Regions from separate parts of the Homo sapiens genome. Here regions 2 and 3 are each linked to region 1. Evidence: fine-mapped expression QTL. A gene starts in region 1. Each other region holds a variant in brackets. All regions are shown on one strand. Distances are from middle to middle.

What was found. PIP is the estimated chance that this variant, and not a neighbour inherited with it, causes the effect.
Region 2: its variant is the best candidate, but not a certain one, in a credible set for the expression of E2F6 in subcutaneous fat (GTEx, PIP 0.76).
Region 3: its variant is the best candidate, but not a certain one, in a credible set for the expression of E2F6 in whole blood (TOPMed, PIP 0.85).

The regions. Positions count from the first base shown.
Region 1 is chr2:11,462,515-11,469,182 of GRCh38, reverse strand. It overlaps E2F6 (E2F transcription factor 6), which reads left to right and starts at 3,022. Exons shown (of 7, transcript NM_198256.4): 1 at 3,022-3,411. The coding sequence starts at 3,304. RefSeq lists enhancers at 2,207-2,286, 2,714-3,270, 3,271-3,828.
Region 2 is chr2:11,437,906-11,444,573 of GRCh38, reverse strand. E2F6 (E2F transcription factor 6) reads left to right here. Exons shown (of 7, transcript NM_198256.4): 7 at 1-199. Among named protein-coding and RNA genes, the nearest start is that of E2F6, 25 kb to the left of the region's middle. The variant A/C (reference allele first, on the strand shown) is at 4,131.
Region 3 is chr2:11,416,601-11,423,268 of GRCh38, reverse strand. LOC105373429 (a long non-coding RNA gene) reads right to left here. Exons shown (of 4, transcript XR_001739285.2): 3 at 2,003-2,098; 4 at 1,232-1,759. Among named protein-coding and RNA genes, the nearest start is that of LINC00570, 26 kb to the right of the region's middle. The variant G/T (reference allele first, on the strand shown) is at 3,201.

The sequences.
Region 1 (6,668 bases):
ACACCTGTGCAGTTGGCCTAATATTTCAGCCCTAACTTTAAAAATGATCCCTGGGAAGTATAGTCTTCAGCCCTAACTTGAAAGTCCCAAAGCCCATGCCCCATTCTGCCCTAGCACCATTTTGCCCCAGGAAGCATACACAAAAACAGGGCTGGAACTGGGAAATACCAGAATTTCTGTGCTCAGAACTGTGACTGTATATCAATGTAAGGCCATGGTGGACAAAGCCAAGGATGTAGTGGCCAAAGTCCTGGTATTTGAGTACCCAACCTGGAACAAACTTCTCTGAGCCTCTGTACCCTCATATATATATATATATATATATATTTTTTTTTTTTTTTTTTTTTTGAGACAGGGTCTTGCTGTGTCACCCAGGCTGGAGTGCAGTGGCATGATCTTAGCTCACTGCAACCTCTACCTCCCAAGTTCAAGCGATTCTCTTGCCTCAGCCTCCTTAGTAGCTGGGATTACAGTCGCCTGCCACCACGCCCGGCTAATTTTTGTATTTATAGAAGAGACAGGGTTGCGCCATGATGGTCAGGCTGGTCTCAAACTCCTGACCTCAATCAAGTGAGCCTCCTGCCTCAGCCTCCCAAAGTGCTGAGATTATAGGTGTGAGCCACCATGCCCGGCCTTCTATAAAGTATTCTTGAAATAGCTGCCTCACAGGCAGATGTGGAAAAGCACCTGTAGTTTACAACTAATTCAGTTATTATTTTTTCTTCCTCTGCTGTGCTGCTATTGTGTGTTAGACACACTCTAATTTAGTACTTATGCTTTCTGCTTATGTATCTCCCCCAGGCTAGTAGCCCCTGGAACACAAGGTAAGGCCCCATCAGATTCAGTTCTTCCCTCAACACCTACCCTACTGCTTGGCCCATGAGAGATGCTTCAAAAAAAAAAATGTGCAAAAGATTATGTCTTGGGGAAAAGCCAGGTCACAGGCACAATAAGTGTGAGGATTGTGCCATTTCCCCGACTCTCCCCAGCTCTGTGCTCATGCTCTTTCTTTAGCCTGGACCACTTGCTACTCCGTCCTGATCCACACCCCACCTTTACTTGCCCAACCCCAACTCTGGTTGTAGAGAATCTAGTCGTCCTTGAAGAATCTTCCTAAAGATCTGAATGCCAAATTAATTAATCAGTTGTGGAGTCAAAGCCTGCCTCTACCACTGCCTACTAGGACCTTGAGTAAATTTTTGTAATCCTGCTGATCTTAATTTTGCTGATCTGCAAATTGGGCAGAAAAATACCTATCTTTCAGTTTTGATATGAGATTTACATAAGCAAATGCATGTGGAATGCCAAACACATAGCAGATGCTGAATAAATGCCTTCAAATGGCCATTTCTAACGGCTCTGGGAAATTCTCCATTCTGCAACAATATGCAGTCTTCTCGAGACCTCCGCTACGTTCTCTTTTTTTCTCATCGTTTATTTAGCAAACATTAATAGAGCATGTTTTATTTGCCAGACACTTTGCTAGATGATAGAGATACAAAGATTAGAAGCCAGGCATGGGTGTCTCACGCCTATAACTCCAGCACCTTGGGAGGCTGAGGCAGGAGGATTGCTTAAGGTAAGGAGTTCAAAAAATAAAATAAAATAAAACATAAAAAAAAATTAGCCAGGCATGGTGGCATGCACCTGTACTCTCAGCTACTTGGGAGTCTTAGCTGGGAGATCACTTGAGGCCAGGAGTTTGACGCTACAGTGAATTATGACCGTGACACTGCCCTCCAGCCTGGGTGACAGAAAAAAAAAAAAAAAGATTAGAGAAGGCCTCTGACCTCACAGTCTAGTGGGGAACCAGCTTCTTCGGGGATTTTTCCCTGCCTCACCTCGCCCACCTCAGGCTGTGTAGAAACCCCCAGTCTAACCAGTTGTTTCCCTCCAACTCTGTACATACCACGGTGTGTTGCCTTTTTATTTCAAACATGTGCTGGCCTCTGTTCTAATCACAGCAACCTGTATCCATTAATCCATTTAATCCTCACAACAACCTTATCAGGTAAGTATTGTCATTATTTGCATTTTCCAAATAAGGAAACTGAGGCACAGACAGATTAAGTAACTGGCTTAATAAGGTCTTCTAGTTTATACGTAGAGGCAGCCAGGACTTGAAAACACACCTTCTGGCTCCAGCTAAATTAACATGCTCTGTTTACTTATCTGTCCCCACTGAAATTGGAGGTTGAACCCGTGGCATATTCAAACGAATAAGTATCGCCTGTGCCCACCCCAATATCTGACACTATAGGTCAACGATAACTCATTCGTCAAACAGGAAGGAGGAAGGAAGGAAGGAAGGAAGGAAGGAAGGAAGGCAGGCAGGCAGGCAGGCGGGCAGGCAGAGGTAAAACGATTCCACAATGGTGTGGTTGCTCACATTTACTAAGCATCAACACTGACCTGCCTGTAAGATGCGCTAACAGAGCTCACGAATAAATGAAGGCTGGGTGTGGTAGCTCACGCCTATAATCCCAGCACTTGAGAGGCCAAGGTGGGAGGACGGCTTGAGCCCCAGAGTTCAGGACCAGCCGGGGCAATATACTGAGACCCTGTCTCTACTAAAATTAAAATTAAAAATTAGCCAGGCACAGTGGCGCGCGCATGTAGTCCCAGCTACTTGGGAGGCTGAGGTGGAGGATCGCTTGAGCCCGGGAATTCAAGGCTGCAGTGAGCCCTGACCACGCCACTGCACTCCAGCCTGGGCGACCAAAAAAAAAATTAAAATAAAAAAAAGGAATAAATGAACATCTCTGCGGCTCAGAACTTTCAGTTATCACCTCAGAACTTTCAGTTATCACCGTCGAGAATTCCAGGCGACCGCTGGGTTTTCCCGGTTGCCTCTTTTCTCTCACCCCTGTTCCCTTCCTCTGGAATTCGGCTCCACCTCTTCCTTTTCCTTTGCCAGCCTCTCCGTGGATTCCGCGGTCCGGGTTTCCCGGGCGGCAGCCGCCGGGAGAGGATCGGTGCGTGGGAGCGCTCCGGCAGCGGCGGGCATGCGCAGAGGGGGGCGGTGTACTGCGCATGCGGGAAGATGGCGGGCCGGGCGACTTGAGATCCGCGGGTCTCCCTCCTCTTTTTCCGTCTGCGTCGGGAGCTCCCGGGCACGTGAGGCCGTGCCGCGTTTACTGGCGGGCGGGACGGCCTAGCCGGGCGGCGCCTCGGAGGAAGCCGCGGACCCCTTAGGTGCTGGGCCCTTGGAAATCGGCGCGTGGGGGGCGGTGCTCGAGCTGAGCGCGAGAGGGCGGGAGAGCTCGTGGGGTGCGAGGGGAGCAGGACGCCCGGCCGGGCAGCATGAGTCAGCAGCGGCCGGCGAGGAAGTTACCCAGTCTCCTCCTGGACCCGACGGAGGAGACGGTTCGCCGTCGGTGCCGAGACCCCATCAACGTGGAGGGCCTGCTGGTAAGCTCCGGGACGGGACGGGGACGGGCGGTGGTCTCCCAAATCCGGCCCCCTCCTCCCCGCGCCGCCGCCAACCCCGCTGGCCGTCGTCTGGGTCGTCTGCTCCCCCTGGGCCAGGCGCTGCCCATCACGTGCTGCGAACTGCGCTCTCCCGCCTTCTGCTTTCAGCATCTGCTCACAGACGTGGTATCAGTCTTCTAGGCTTTTACATCGGAACTTCAGAGCACTGTTGGAGAAAATTGCTCAACTTTGCATTAGAGAGTCCATGTTTATCTCCTTCTATGGACTCTAGCTGTATCTCTGCAACCTATCATTTGTTTTTCTGCCTCCTCTCCCATCCTTCTGCTCTACTGCAGCCGTTTAAAACCTTGTCCACGCTTTATATTTCCCACGCCACAGCTCCCATTCATCAAATTATCTCCCCACCTGTTTGACAGAGAAAATGGTTAGGAAATTTGGCTCCCTTTCCTGCAAAGGCTGATTTCTTCTCTTGTTCAGGACCAGATGCTGTATTCCCCGCGGTTATCAGGGCCCTCAACAAATGCATTTTCTTTTTCTTTTCTTTCTTTTTTTTCTTTTTTTTTTTTTTTTTTGAGATTGAGTTTTACTTTTGTTCCCCAGGCTGGAGTGCAATGGCGCAATCTCAGCTCACTGCAACCCCCACCTCCCAGGTTCAAGAGATTCTCCTGCTTCAGCCTCCCATGTAGCTGGGATCACAGGCATGCGCCACCACACCCAGCTAATTTTGTATTTTTAGTAGAGACGGGATTTCGCCGTGTTGGCCAGGCTGGTCTCGAACTCCTGACGACCTCAGGTGATCCACCGAGCCCGACCTCTCCCCGTATTTTCAATTTCTCTGCTGCTTTCTTTCTATAACTAGTAGTAATTAAACATTTTCCCAAGTCATTATGCCTGGTTCCCCTACCAAATAGTTTGTGATTATTGCCTCATTTAATTTCTCATTTCTCACAGCAGTGTTTTATAATACTAAAAGATTATTATTCTTGTTTCACGGTTGCCAAAACAGACTTGGAGATGCATGTAACGCCGGCTTGCCTGTGGCTGGATAATAAGTGTAGAAACTTGGGTTGAAGCTCCAAATGTCTAACTCCAGATGATAAATTCTTGACTACTAAAACCGCATTCTAAATCCATCCCCATCTTAAAAGATCTCTCCCTTGATTCCATATCCCCTCCCATCTACTGTCTCTCTTCCTCTTCACAGCTAAACTTTTTTTTTTTTTTTTTTTTTTTGGTGACGAAGTCTTGCTCTGTCACCCAGGCTGGAGTGCAGTGGCCTGATCTCGGTTCACTGCAAGCTCCGCCTCCCGAGTTCACGCCATTTTCCTGCCTCAGCCTCCTGAGTAGCTGGGACTACAGGCACCCGCCACCACGCACGGCTAATTTTTTTTTGTATTTTTAGTAGAGATGGGGTTTCACCGTGTAAGCCAGGATGGTCTCAATCTCCTGACCTCGTGATCCACCCGCCTCAGCCTCCCAAAGTGCTTTCACAGCTAAACTTCTTGAAAAGGTTATTTACACTCACTGTTTCCACTTGATGGCCTCTTATTACCAGCCAACCCACTGCTGGGGACCCCTATCCTAAGCACACTTGTAAGACCATTCTAACCAAGGTCACCGACAAGCTCGTCAATTCCAGCAGCTGTTGTAGTTTTGACTACAACACTCGTGTTAGAAACCCTCCCTTGAGCTTCCTTGACGTTTGATGCTCCATCTGCTTCTCTGGCTTCTCCTTGTCCTCATCCTCTTCCCATTCCTTCATGTTGATTTGTTTTTCTGTTTTTGTTTTTGTCCCCCCCCCCGGTGCAGGATCTCACTCTGTCACCCTGGCTGGAGTGCAGTGGCACATCATGGCTCACTGCAGCCTTACCTCCCAGGCTCAAGTGATCCTTCTGCCTCCAACTCCCAAGTAGCTGAGACCACAGGCACATGCCACCACACCTGGCTAATTATTTTTATTTTTAGAGATGGGAGTCTTCCTATGGGGCCCAGGCTGGTCTTGAACTCCTGGGCTCAAGCAGTCCTCTCACCTCAGCTCCCCAAAGTGCTGGGATTACAGGCGTGAGCCTCTGCAGCTGGCCACATGTTGGTATTATTCAGGGTTCTCTTCTACCGTCTCTACACATTCTTCTTAGGGGAGTTCATTCACTCCTCCCATGACTTCTGTTACCATCTACATTTGATCATTGAACGACTCAGGGATTGGGGCACCAAATCCCATGAAATTCAAAATCTGAATATAACTTTGATTCCCCCAAAACTTTACTGTTTGCTGGAAGCCTTACTGATACCGTAAACAGTTAATTGACACATATTTTGTATTTATATGTATTAGTTACTGTTTTCTTATAGTAAAGTAGCTAAAGAAAAGAAAATGTTATTAAGAAAATCATAAATAAGAGAAAATCCTACTCCTTCGGGGGAATTAGGTCATCGTAAAGGTCTTCATCCTTGTCTTCACACTAAGTGGGCTGATGAACAAGAGTAAGAGGAGGAGCTGGTTTTGCTCTCTAAGGGGTGGCAGCGGGTAAAGAAAATTGGTCTCTAAGTGGACCCACACAATTCAAACCTGTGTTGTTTGAGGGTCAGCTGTATATTGGTACCATCTGTATTGGTGGTCTTAATATTTGAGAACGTGATAAAAACTCTAAGCTCACTGTGGAAAAACCACTTAGTTTGCATGTAGTATCAGCAGATACATCCCTTGAAATCTTAGACATACAGTTCTGGTATTTTCAGTTACCATGTCATAATTCCCAAATCTATAAATCTCCTTCAGGGTTTTCCAGCTGTCTACTAGACCTTCCTACTTAGGTTTCAAACTCCTATTAGTCCCCTCTCATCTGAGGTTTCACTTTTCTTTATTTCAGTTAACCTGTGGTCCCCCAAACTATTAAAATGAAAATTCCAGAAATAATTCATTAGTTTTAAACTGCTTGCCATTCTCAGTAGTGTCATGAAATCTTGAGCTGTCCAGTACCACCCAGCACCTGAATCTTCCTTTGTCCAGAGTTCCCATGCTGTCACTGCGCCCTGCCCTTAGTCGCTTAGTAGCTGTTTCTTGATTCTCAGACCAACTGTCACGGTGCTTGTGTTAAGTAGCCCTTATTTTCTCAGTAATGGCCCCAAAGCACAAAAGTAGTGCTTCCAGTATGCTTCCAGTAGTGCTTCCAGTATGCTGAAGAGAATTGATGAAGTGCTTCCTTTAAGTGAAAAGATCTAAGTTCTTGACTTAG
Region 2 (6,668 bases), 25 kb after region 1:
GAAGGCAGTGTCCCAAAAACCAACAAAGGTTTTACCAAAGGTAATACCATCATTTCTGAGCAGCAGTTCCTTAACTTGTGAATGTGGCAAATGTTCTCCTTTACAAATTGTTCTGAAGGTAAAATGAGATCATGTAAACGAAAATCCTTTGTAAATTACAGATGTGTGTTATAAATGAAGTATCTCTCGAGTCACTCCATCTTCTGGCGTTGGGTCTCTGATTCTTAAAACGGATAAAATAAGCATGAACTCGTTTCTGGGCCCCTCCTCCTCACTAACCCTAACCTTTCCAACCTCACTGTCCCATCTCTGTGCGCACCGCTTCTTCCTTCAGAAACCTTGAGCGATCCGTGTTTCCTTCAGGCCGAAGTGCAGACTCTGGATATAGAAGGGCCCAAGGCTTGCTTACCAATCCTGCCTTGGTACCTGCCTTGCAGACCTTCACCCCAGTAAATTGGTCTCATCGCTACCTGAAGCACACAGTGAACTTTCCCATCTCCCTGCCTTTGCTCTTATCCTATCCTCTTCCTGTTCTCTGTGTTTCAAAATCGCATCCCTATTCTGGACCTGGCTTCACCCATGCCTCCCCTTTACTCCTACCCTGCATGCAGTTTATACACAGCACGCAGGTGGCCATCTTCCTTCCTCATAAGTTGCTGCGGCTACGTTCCCAGCTGCCATTCCATGTTGTCAGAGTGTAAGCTCATGTCTTAATAGGTATTTCTCATATTAATGTAGTGTATGATAGGGTTTGGCTGTGTCCCCACCCAAATCTCATTTTGAATTGCAGTTCCCATAATCCCCATGTGTCGTGGGAGGGACCAGGTGGAGATAACTGAATCATGGGAGCTGTTTCCCTACATCCTGTTCTCGTGATAGTAAGTTCTCACGAGATCTAATGGTTTAATAGAGGGCTTTTCCCTTCGCTCGGCTCTCATTCTCCCTCCTGCCACCATATGAAGAAAGACGTATTTGCTTCCTCTTCCACCATGATTGTAAGTTTCCTGAGCCAGCCATGCTGAACTATGAGTCAATTAAATCTGTTTCCATTATAAATTACCCAGCCTTGGGTATGTCTTTGTTAGCAGTTTGAGAATGGACTAATACAGTAAATTGGTACCACAGAGAGTGGGGTGCTGCTGTAAAGATACCCAAAAATGTGGAAGCAACTTTGGAACTGAGTAACAGGCAGAGGTTGGAACAGTTTGGAGGGTTCAGAAGAAGACAGGAAAATGTGGGAAACATTTAGAACTTCCTAGAGACTTGTTGAATAGCTTTGACAAATTGCTGATAGTGATATGGACAGTGAAGTCCAGGCTGAAGTGGTCAAGATGGAGATGAAGAACCTATTGGAAGCGGGAGTAAAGGTCACTCTTGCTATGGAAAGAGACTGGTAGCATTTTGCCTCTGCCGTAGAGATGCATGGAACTTTGAGAGAGATGAGTTAGGGTATCTGGCAGAAGAAATTTCTAAGCAGCAAAGTGTTCGAGAGGAAGCAGAGCATAAAAGTTTGGAAAATTTTGCAGCCTGATGATGGGATAGAAAAGAAAACTCCATTTTCTGGGGAGAAATTTAAGCTGGCTGCAGAAATTTGCATAAGTAACGTCAAATGTTAATCACCAAGAGAATGGGGAAGATGTCTCCAGGGCATGTCAGAGACCTTCCAGCAGCCCCTCCTATCACAAGCCTGGGGGCCTATAAGGGCCCCCCCCCCACCCCCCGCTCTATGCTGCATTGGGACATGGTGCCCTGCATCCTAGCTTCTTCAGCTCCAGCCTTGGCTAAAAGGGACCAACATAAAGCTCAGGCTGTTGCTTCAGAGGGTGCAAGCCCCAAGCCTTGGCTTACACATGGTGTTGGGCCTATGGGTGCACAGAAGTCAAGAATTAAGGTCTGGGAACCTCTGCCTAGATTTCAGAGGATGTATGGAAACACCTGGATGTCCAGGCAGAAGTTCGCTCTCTGGAGAACCTCTGCTAGGGCAGTGTGGAAGGGAAATACGGGGTTGGATCCCCCACACAGAGTCCCGATTGGTGCACTGCCTGGTGGAGCTGTGAGAACAGGGCCACCGTCCTCCAGACCCCAGAATGGTAGCTTGCACTGTGCACCCGGAAGAGTCCCAGACACTCAACACCAGCCTGTGAAAGTAACCAAGGTGGGGGTGGGGGTATACCCTGCAAAGCCACAGGAGTGGGGCTGCCCAAGGCCATGGGAGCCCACCTCTTGCATCAACATCACCTGGATGGGAGACACGGAGTCAAAGGAGATCATTTTGGAACTTTAAGGTTTAATGACTGCCGTATTGGATTTCGGACTTGCATGGCACCCGTAGCCTCTTTGTTTTGGCCAATTTCTCCCATTTGGAATGGGTGTATTTACCCAATCCCTGTACCCCCATTGTATCTAGGAAGTAACTAACTTGCTTTTGGTTTTACAGGCCCATAGGTGGAAGGGACTTGCCTTGTCTGAGATGAGACTTTGGACTTGGAGTTTTGAGTTAATGCTGGAATGAGCTAAGACTTTGGGTGACTGTTGGAAGGGCAGGGTTATGTTTGGAATTATGAGGACATGAGATTTGGGAGGGGCCAGGGACAGAATGATATGGTTTGGCTGTGTTCTCACCCCAATCTCATCTTGAATTATAGTTCCCATAATCCCCACATGTTGTGGGAGGGACCAGATGGAGAAAATTGAATCATGGGGGCTGTTTCCTCCATCCTGTTCTCGTGATAGTAAGTTCTCACAAGATCCGATGCTTTTGTAAGGGGCTTCCCCCTTGGATCGGCTCTCATTCTTCTCTCTCCTGCCACTATGTGAAGAAGGACATGTTTGCTTCCCCTTCCACCATGATTGTAAGTTTCCTGAGGCCTCAGCCATGCTGAACTGTGAGTCAATTAAACCTCTTTCCTTTATAAATTACCCAGTCTTGGGTATGTCTTTATTAGCAGCATGAGAATGGACTAATACAATGTTCAGTAAGTTGTTGCTGGTTGGTAAGTGACCTGACCTGACTACATCATTCGACCCAACTCCCAAGAAATTTTTTTTTTTTTTTGTAACGGAGTCTCACTCTGTCACACAGGCTGGAGTGCAGTGGTATGATCTCAGCTCACTGCAACCTCTGCCTCCCAGGTTCAAGTGATTCTCGTGCCTCAGACTCCAGAGTAGCTGGGATTTCAGGCATGGGCCACCACAGCTGGCTAATTTTTGTGTTTTTTTAGTAGAGGTGGGATTTCACCACGTTGGCCAGGCTGGTCTCGAACTCCTGACCTCAAGTGATCTGCCTGCCTCTGCCTCCCAAAGTGCTGGGATTACAGACATGAGCCACCACACCTGGCCCTGAGAATTTTTTTTAAAAGATGACTTCAGGCCGAGCGTGGTGGCTCACGCCTGTAATCCCAGCACTTTGGGAGGCTGAGGCAGGCAGGTCACAAGGTCAAGAGATCAAGACCATCCTAGCCAACATGGTGAAACCCATCTGTACTAAAAATACAAAAATTAGCCGGACCTGGTGGCACGCACCAGTCGTCCCAGCTACTCAGGAGGCTGAGGCAGAAGAATCACCTGAACCTGGGAGGTAGAGGTTGCAGTGAGCCGAGATTGCACCACTGCGTTCCAGCCTGGCAACAGAGCGAGACTCCATCTAAAGTTAAAAAAATAAATAAATAAATAAAAAATAAAAAAAAAACGATGACTTCAGTAACTAACGGAATTTGTAATGAAAAAAAGATTGCCAAATTTGCATTTTGCTAAAAGTTAAAGCACATCTAACTAATTGTCCTTTGCCTCAGCAAAAGATGAGCCCCCCTGTACTTGAGACAGCTATGACTCCTTTTGTGCCTCCCTTTTGATGGTTTTGGCCCCAGGGATGCATGTATTGGCGGAGTCAAGTGAATGCCCAAGGTTAGCAAGTGAATGATGGTGCTGCTGAGGGCTTGAGGGGCTTAAGACAGAACCAGCGTTTCACTTTCATACATGAAACTGTTTCTTCATATCTCAGAAATGGGCCACTCGATTAACATAATTAAAAATGAAAATCAGAATAAAACCACCTGGGTCATTAAAAGCAACCCATTGTATTACAGTGTTTCGAAGTTGGCTTTTTGATTCTATTAGGATTGGCTTACCCC[A/C]CCCTCCAAGCGGTGCACCCCGGCCTTGCCAGGCGTTAGCTGCAGATTAAGGCAGTGCCTTCTCCTGGCTTTATGTTTTGCTTTTGTAGTTTCTCTGACTGCTAAAGACAGACCTGGTGCCTTGTTGGCCTTAGGCCCTATTGTCACTCCAGTCAGGTGGGAAAGGGATGATGTTTGGGGCTTTCAGCCTGGCCTTCAGAGGACAGGAGGCGAGGGCCCAGAGAAGCAAGGGAAGATCTGCTGAGAGAAGGTAAAGAAAGGAGCAAAAAACAAAAGGAGGAAAGAGCCAGGATGACAGGACAGGGAGAGAAGAAAGGGGGACACAGTATAAAGGAGAAGCAGTGGGAGAAGTGATGAAGAGTGACAGTATGGCCTGGGAGATGCGAGTCTCCAAAGCCAAGGCATGGGTCAGGCAAGGTGGCCGTCACCGCAGCCGGAGGAGCAGCCCCAGACCACAGGTCTCGAAGGCAAGGCGCCCAGAGGTGGAGGGTTGCAACTCACCTTGAAGCTACCACTTGGCGAGTTCTGATGTAGTTTCAAGGAAGGATGGCCTTTGGGATCTGAAGAGGCTATTAAAACAACTTTCCATTTTCCAACTACGTATTTATATGAGGCTGGGCTTTTCTTTATGTATGTAAACCAAAACGTATCACAGCAGAATTCACACAAGCTGACGGGAAAATCCATCTGTCTTCTATTAGGCCAGACTTTAAGAGATTTGTGAAATGTAAAATAGTGTCATCTTCACTAAATTGTTTTTGTCTTGGAAAACATAGTTTTTTCCATAAAAATATTTAACATGTATTGTGTTTACTATTTTTATTTTTAGATGGATTAAATACTTATATAATTTCCTAGTTTTAATTTGCAATACTTATATAATTTCCTAGTTTTAATGTGCAATACTTTACATATCAGTCAGTATAATACATATATAAACAAAAGCTTTGTGGGGTGTTTAATGTTTTAGAGTTTAAGGAGGTGCTGAGGCCCGAGCTTATTCTATCCAAGGATCCAAGGGCTTGTAACTACAGGCAGCTCTCCTCTTGAGAGAGCTGAAGAGGGGCCTGTGTGCACACCCCCACACTATACACTCCCTCCTTTCTCCAAACACCCACAGTGACTCTCAGGATAAACACATGGACTCAAAGCAGTGGCCAGCCACCCTTAAAAAAATATAGTGCTGGACCCAATGTCTTTATTCTTGCTCATTGAGCCTTTCTAGTTCCCATTCTTTTATTTCGAATGAAGGTAATTGTATCCAACCATTCACATTATTTCTAGCTAATGTTTGTGAAAATTTAGGCTGTCAGGAAAAATGAATCTCTGTACACAGGGCTAATGACAAAAGAAGGGAGCATTTTCAGAACTACGCTAGCATTAGGCTTCCGTGTAGAGGAACCTGGATTAGAGTGACACTGTTGGCCTCTGCTACTCCCTCAGTCACTCTTTTAGAAGCAAAGCGGGTGGCTTCTCTGAGTATGGAAAAGGGAACTGGACATGAAAGGCTTGGTGACTTTGGCTTTCCTCTGTTCGGGAATTTCCTGCCTGTGGAGATACGCATCTAGATTGACCTGAGGGGGGCTCCTGCAATTGTTCAGTTATGCCAGTTGTTCTCAGCTGGGGACATTTTGTTCCCCAGAGGACACTGGGCAATGTCTGGAGACAGTTTTGATTATCATGACTGGAGTGCTGTTGGCATCTAGGAGTGGAGGACGGGATGCTGCTAAACCTAGTGTACAGGATAAACCCAGCGACGGTCACCTGGTCCAGCGTGCCAATGGTGCTGAGGCCAAGAGACCTAAGTTAGGTCAGTAACAGAGGCAGATAATCTGTCCATTTCAAGAGGAAGTGCTAACTAGCCCTTTTGCTCACCAATCTAAAGCCACATCCCCATCAGCTTTATTAGTAATAGCAGGGAGATTTTTACCTCTATCTTTTTATGTCTATCAGTTGATTCCGACCATGGAAGGGGAAGAGGGATATTACTTATTGAGAAAAGAATCCGGAACAGACTTTACACTGGGGCTCCATATTAGTAAGGATTAAATTCAGCTGCACACAACACACAACGGTGGCTTAAACAAGACAGAAGTTTATTTCTCTCACACATTTAGGAAGGAGACAGTCCCGAGTTGGTATTGTTCTCCAAGAGGTCAGGAACCAAGGCCCCTTCCAGGTATTGGTTCTTCATGCTTGGCTTCCATTCCCAAGGTCACTTCAAAATCCAAGGGAGCTGCTGGAGCCCACCCCATAATAGTACGTATTATTTACATGCTAGCCAGCAGGAAGGATGAAGAAGGAGAAGAAGGGTACAATTCCTGTCCTTAAGGACACTTCCAGCAGGTTGTGACCACACTTTTAACTGACATCCATTGGTCACAGTTTAGCCACTTAGACTTAGAAATGTCGTGTTTAGAGGAGGGAGGGACAGCCACGTGCCCAGCTAACGACCGAGAATTCTGTTGCTATTCAAGAAGGGAAGAATAGGAACTGGATATGGTAGATACTCAAGTGTCTATCAAGTTCTGGTTCCCC
Region 3 (6,668 bases), 46 kb after region 1:
CTTAGTGGGGTTTTTTGTTTTGTTTTGTTTTTGAGACAGGGTTTTGCTCTGTTGCCCAGGCTGGAGTGCTGTGGTGCAATCATGGCTCACTGCGGCCTTGAACTCCTGGGCTCAAGCGATCCTCCTGCCTGAGTAGCTGGGACTGTGAGTGCATGCCACAACACTCAGCTTCAGCTTAGTGTTTTGAGTAATTGTTCTTTTCTCCATTTCTTCCCATCTGTCTAAATGTAGTTTAGTGTATTTTTTGTTATTGTCTGCAGAGTTAAAGCATAAAATGGCTGAATAGAGCAAAAAAAGAAAAAAGAGTCTCTTCAATGGAGAAAAAATAAAATAATCAGTAAATATTGCAAAAAAGAATTTGTTTAAAACCTTACCCTGCTCTGCCTACCCCCACGACCTCTTCCTGTCACAGGCAACCATTCTACCAACGGAGATAATATTGCCAGAGAAGACGTTTTACCAGGGCAGGAGAAACATGCACCATCTTACGTCCCTTGCCCTCCATTTCTCTTCATATTTGTGTACCTGTTTGTAACTGAATGTGGTAATAGAAAATAGAAAAGACATGATGACTGGTGGCTGCTGAGTAAGCCTTCAGACACCCTTCCTAAATGCATGAGGATCTGCACTGGATTCTGCCCAAGGGCAGGTCGGGGGCAAAAGCAGATGAGTTGGCAAAAGACCACATGGAGACGAGACACCAACACTGGGGACAGGCTCATGCCAGTTTGGAATCCAGCCTTTGAACTGATTTCTCATTTTGCAAAATTATTTTCTACACCAGCTATTTCTTAAATGACTTCTGGTTGACTTGGGTGGTAACATTAAGATAAAAATGTGTTGGCAGTGAAAAAAACAAACCACACTTAAAAGAAATATTGAAGCTGGGCATGGGGGCTCACGCCTGTAATACCAGCACTTCGGGTGGCTGAGGTGGGAGGATCACTTGAGCCCAGAAGATCAAGGCTGCCGTGAGCTATAATCGCACCACTGCACTCCAGCCTGGGTGACAGAGAGAGACCGTCTCAAAAAAACAAACAAATATTGAAACGTTGCTTAGTTAAAAGCCTTTTACAATTTGTTTCCACCTAACATGTGGTTACTTATTCGATCACATAATCTGGTGAAGGAGAGTAAAGACCATGACACTGATTTGCTATTTACAACAAGGCAACATATTGCTTAGTGCTCATCAGCTTTCTAAAGAAGCTGAACATCATGTCCAGTACTTTGCAAAATTCTTTCAGATCCTCTGACAGCTTTAGTAAAAAATGTCATCACAAGCCAACTCAGTTGTCTACAAACAGGCTCTCATTTTACATTTAACTTTGAAAATATATTTACAATCCTTTGAAAATATATTTACAACAATTTAGAATCATTCTCAATTTCATTGCCTCTCAGCTGCACAGCTGGATTTTATTTGGTGCAAAAGGAAAAACTGGGTTGTAGGTAAACATTATATCATGTTTGGGGAGTGGTTTATAGAAATTTCAAGCCTCTTGTACTTTCATGAATTTTCTAACACTTTATTATTGTTATAATTATCTACTCATAATAATGACTGCCATTTATTGAGCCCATACCAGGTGCCGGCCCCTGGACTAGGAGAAACAGTTAATGTTTGTGTTACCTTGTCAGATAAGTGTCGTTGCTGAGGCTCAGGAGGATGAGGGCATGCTTGCCCAAAACTCCACAACTGGGAAATACTAGAGCCAGGATTCGGACCCCAGACAGTACGGTTCACAAGCCATATTCCCTTTAAAAATGAAGGTGACCCCTTGTCAGGCTATGGAATTTGAGGTGTGAAATTCTTTCAGCTCGTGCTGTAGTTACTAGAGATGGTCTTAATTGTCAGACAGCTCTTCAGCAGTTGGGGCAAACAGGCAAACATTAACTCATGATGACCATACCACCTGGATTAGTTTGTCCTTGTTGCATTGCTATAAGGAATGACCTGAGGCTGGGTAATTTATAAAGAAAAGAGGTTTAGTTGGCTCACCGTTCCGCAGGCTGTTCAGGAAGCGTGGCTGGGGAGACCTCAGGAAACTTACAATCATGGCAGAATGAGAAGACGAAGGAGGCACATTTTACATGGCTGGAGCAAGAGGAAGAGAGCGAAGGAGGCAGTACATACTTGTAAACAACCAGATCTCGTAAGCACTCAGTCACTATCATGAGAACAGCAAGGGGAAAATCTGCCCCCACGATCCCATCACCTCCCACCAGGCCCCACTTCCAACGCTGGGGATTACAGTTCGACACGAGATTTGGGCAGGGACACAAATCCAAACCATATCACTACCTAAGCCCATTCCTCCTACTACTGACCACTTCTTTCTTCCCTTGACCAGTGTGCATGGGTAGGAATACATACTGTATGACGCTGCTCGGTGAGAAGAAGCAATCTGACTAAACCCCTGGACTGCTTTCTGGATTTGGTTTTGTACTTCACTACTAAGGTTATTTTCGTTGGTCAGTGAACCTCTGGAACGGTAGTTCGAACAGCTTGTAATACATGTCTCATGAAAGTTACATGGATGTGTATGTATATACATGTATGCTGGAATAACTCTTTAAATCTTGATTTCAGAAATCTGGAATATTTATGCTTATACTCAAGTAAGGAATTTGATTTGAGGTATTTTAAGTAGAGTCACCAAAAATAATCCGTTGCAGCAAATTTAGAAAGTTATCATTAATGCTCAAAATATAGCATTTTCTACTTATTTTCACTTCACAATGTATCAAATAGGATTTCCAACATCTTATGAAAAGATACAGTATTTTCTCAAAGAGTAAGAAAACTGGGGCAAAGGGTAAATAAGGGTAGGAAAATAATGTGAAACCAGGGGAGAGGCTAGTACACAGAATACATGCTGTACAGCGTGTGTCATTGATTGCATCTCATTTTAAAAATAAAACGGCACATCCCACTTTCCTAAAAATGTGGCTTCTTGATCAGGAATCTCTATCTCTGTTACAGCAGTGGGACTTCTTGTCCTTTTTAATACTTTGTTCTTTCCTCCCTGCCTTAGGAAATATTCCATTTGATTCTGTCCTTGTTTTTTGTTTTTTTTTTTCCAATAGGCAGCCTTCCACAGCAGCAGTCTGAGACAATGAAAAATCACTTGAGCTTTTTAAAACAAATGATCGTGAGGAGCATTTGAGGATTCATTTGTCGAGTTAGTTGGAATGTC[G/T]TATGTGGGCAAGCTCATGTTTCCAATTTGGGACTTGGAGCAGGCAATCAGCTGTGTCGCATTCTCATATCCGCTTGAAGTCAGCCCTGAGAGCTGCGGTATCTTTAGTAGCTCACTGTGTATGGTGATAGCAAGTGTGCGAGTTGTCCTCACAGAAAACAGCTCACTTGATAGTTTATGAAGCTGCAACTTGGCAGTGCTATCCAAGACCTTTCTTTCAGAAATTGCTGTTGCCACTACCACACAGTGGACAAATCTGAAAGGGAGAATTTAGTTTTTCCACGGACTCTCCTTTTCCTATGAGGATTTTTTAGTACACCCTGTACATAAAACCATGGCTTACAAAGTGAAAACATTGATCGCTTTTTTTTTTCTTTTCTGTTTTTTGAGGCAGAGTCTCACTCTGTCACCCAGGCTGGAGTGCAGTGGCCCGATCTCAGCTCACTGTAACTTCTGCCTCCCAAATTCAAGTGATTCTCCTGCCTCAGCCTCCCGAGTAGCTGGAACTACAGGCGTGAACCACCACACCTGGCTAATTTTTTTATATTTTTTGTTTGTTTTTTAGTAGAGATGGGGTTTCACTGTGTTGGCTAGGCTGGCCTTGAACTCCTAACCTCAGGTGATCGCCAGCCTCGGCCTCCCAAAGTGCTGGGATTACAGGTGTGAGCCACCGTGCCTGGCTGATACATCAGCATTTTGAATGGATGAGTTGAATATGATTAAAAAAAAAAAAAGGCCAGGCATGATGGCTCACGTCTGTAATCCCAGCACTTTGGGAGGCTGAGGCAGGCAGATCACTTGAGGTCAGGAGTTTGAGACCAGCCTGGCCAACATGGAGAAACCCTGTCTCTACTAAAAATACAAAATATTAGCCAGGCATGGAGGTGCACACCTGTAATCCCAGCTACTCGGGAGGCTGAGGCACAAAAATCGCTTGAACCCAGGAGGCAGAGGTTGCAGTGAGCCAAGATTGCGCCACTGCACTCCAGCCTAGGTAACAGAGCAAGACTCTGTCTCAAAAAAATAAATAAATAAAAATGAAAATGAAATGTGAGTATCTATGTAGAACTGCAAAATGTCTTAGGTAAAACATAAAGTGTCCATTATTTTCCCTTTGTGCCACTGTAAATATGAAAAGAAATAATCAAATACTCTAGGCAGAATTGTAGGAGGGGGACCTAAAATTCTAAAATCAGTGTTTGCTGAACCTTTTATTTTTGCCTTCAATGACTTTTAAAAATAGATTATATTTTTAGAGTAGTTTTAGGTTTACAGAAAAATGATGCAAAGTACAAAATTCCCATTATAACCCCCTCTTTCTGTGCACAGTTTCCCCTACTATTAATGACATCTTGAATTGATGTAGTACACCTGTTGCAATTGATGACCTGACATTAATGCATTATTATTAAGTCTATAGTTTCCATTCGGATTCACTCTTTCTGTTGTACATCTCTACAGGTTTTGCTGAGTGCATGACGTCTTGTATCTACCACTACAGTATCACACCTAATAGTTTCACCACCCTAAAAATCCCCTGTGCTTCACCTATTGATCTCCCCTTCCCTACCCCTAACTCCTGGCAACCACTGGTCTTTTTACTGTCTCTCTAGTTTTGCCTTTTCCAGAATGATATGCAATTGTAACCTTTTCAGACTGGCTTCTTTAACTTAGCAATATGCATTTAAGATTCTTCCATGTCTTTTTGTGGCTCGATAGCTCATTTTTTTGTTGCTGAATAATTTTCCACTGCATAGATGCACCACAGTTTGTGCAGGAGCTGTGTGCTTGAGAAGCTATGTGTGCTCTAGGAGCTGTTCACTGGAGAAGCCACTCCTTAAAGCAGGCTGCGGGTCAAGCCTGTGGGAACCAGGAAGCAAACCGTTTTTCGTCTGCAGCATCTCTCTAGCGCCCTCTACTGACAAAGCTTAAAATTGTGCCAGCTAGCGAAGAAAAAAAATATGTAAAAGGCCCAGATTCATTTTCACTAGCAGGCAAAAAGGATGGTTTTGAGGCTGCCGGGCTATAAATCAAAAACGGGCACAACAATCTAACCTACCACAGCTAGTAAGATTCAAGGAGAGAAGCCAGGCAAACTGAAAGCTAATGACTTATGAAAAGCACCCAAGCTCACTCTCTGGACCAAAGCACTAGTTTTTTTTGTTTTGTTTTGTTTTGTTTTGTTTTGTTTTGTTTTGTTTTGTTTTGTTTTGTTTTTTGAGACAGAGTCTCACTCTGTTGCCCAGGCCGGAGTGCAATGGCATGATCTTGGCTTATTGCAAACTCCACCTCCCAGGTTCAAGCGATCCTTCCACCTCAGCCTCCTGAGTAGCTGGAATTACAGGTGTGTGCCACCATGCCTGGCTAATTTTTATATTTTTAGTAGAGACGGGGCTTCACCACGTTGACCAGGCTGGTCTTGAACTCCTGACCTGAAGTGACCCACCTGCTTCAGCCTCCCAAAGTGTTAAGATTACAGGTGTGAGCCACCATGCCCAGTCTCAAAGCACTAGTTCTGCTGATCAGTGAGTCTCAAAGTGCCCCCCTCGGATCTCTTATGCTAGAACCACCTACGGGCTTGTTACAACGCAGATTCCTGTGCTCCAGCTGGAACTGACAACTGAATTAGAATGAAGGAAGGCAGACAGGCATCTGTAGTTTAAACTTTTACTCCAGCTAGCTCTATGTACACTAACATTTAAGATTCAGGTGATCCTTGAGGGTAGGGGCCTTTTTAATTCATACTTGGCTCTTGGCCCAGTATTTGACTCTTAGAGGGTATTGCTGTAGATAGGCTGGTTCCTGCATTGGTTGGTTGGTTGGTTGGTTGGTTGAGAGATCTGATTCAAACCCAAGCAGCTGTAACTGGCCATGAGCTACAGCCCCAGCAATACTTTAACGGCATTTGGCAGATGAGCACGTCCCTTCACTAATGTTAGTAAAGCCCAGAGGTGACACATCCTCACTAGAATGGCAGATGGTATTTTCCATAGATGACTGTGGCAATATCTCCCATCCCACATCTTCTCCTACAATGTGACCTTGCCACCCTTCCATCAAGAGGCAGGGTCTATGTCCTGGATCCTTGAATCTAGGCAGGCTTGGGACTTGCTTGCAACTGATAGAATGTGCAGAAGTGATGCTCTCTGAGGCTACCTTAAAAAAGGCAATGGCCGGGCGCGGTGCCTCACGCCTGTAATCCCAGCACTTTGGGAGGCTGAGGTGGGTGGATCACAGGGTCAGGAGATCGAGACCATCCTGGCTAACATGGTGAAACTTCATCTCTACTAAAAATGCAAAAAATTAGCTGGGCGTGGTGGTGGGTGCCTGTAGTCCCAGGTACTCGGGAGGCTGAGGCAGGAGAATGGCGTGAACCCGGGAGGTGGAGCTTGCAGTGAGCCGAGATCGCGCCATTGCACTCCAGCCTGGGCGAGAGTGTGAGACTCCATCTCAAAAAGAAAAAAAAAA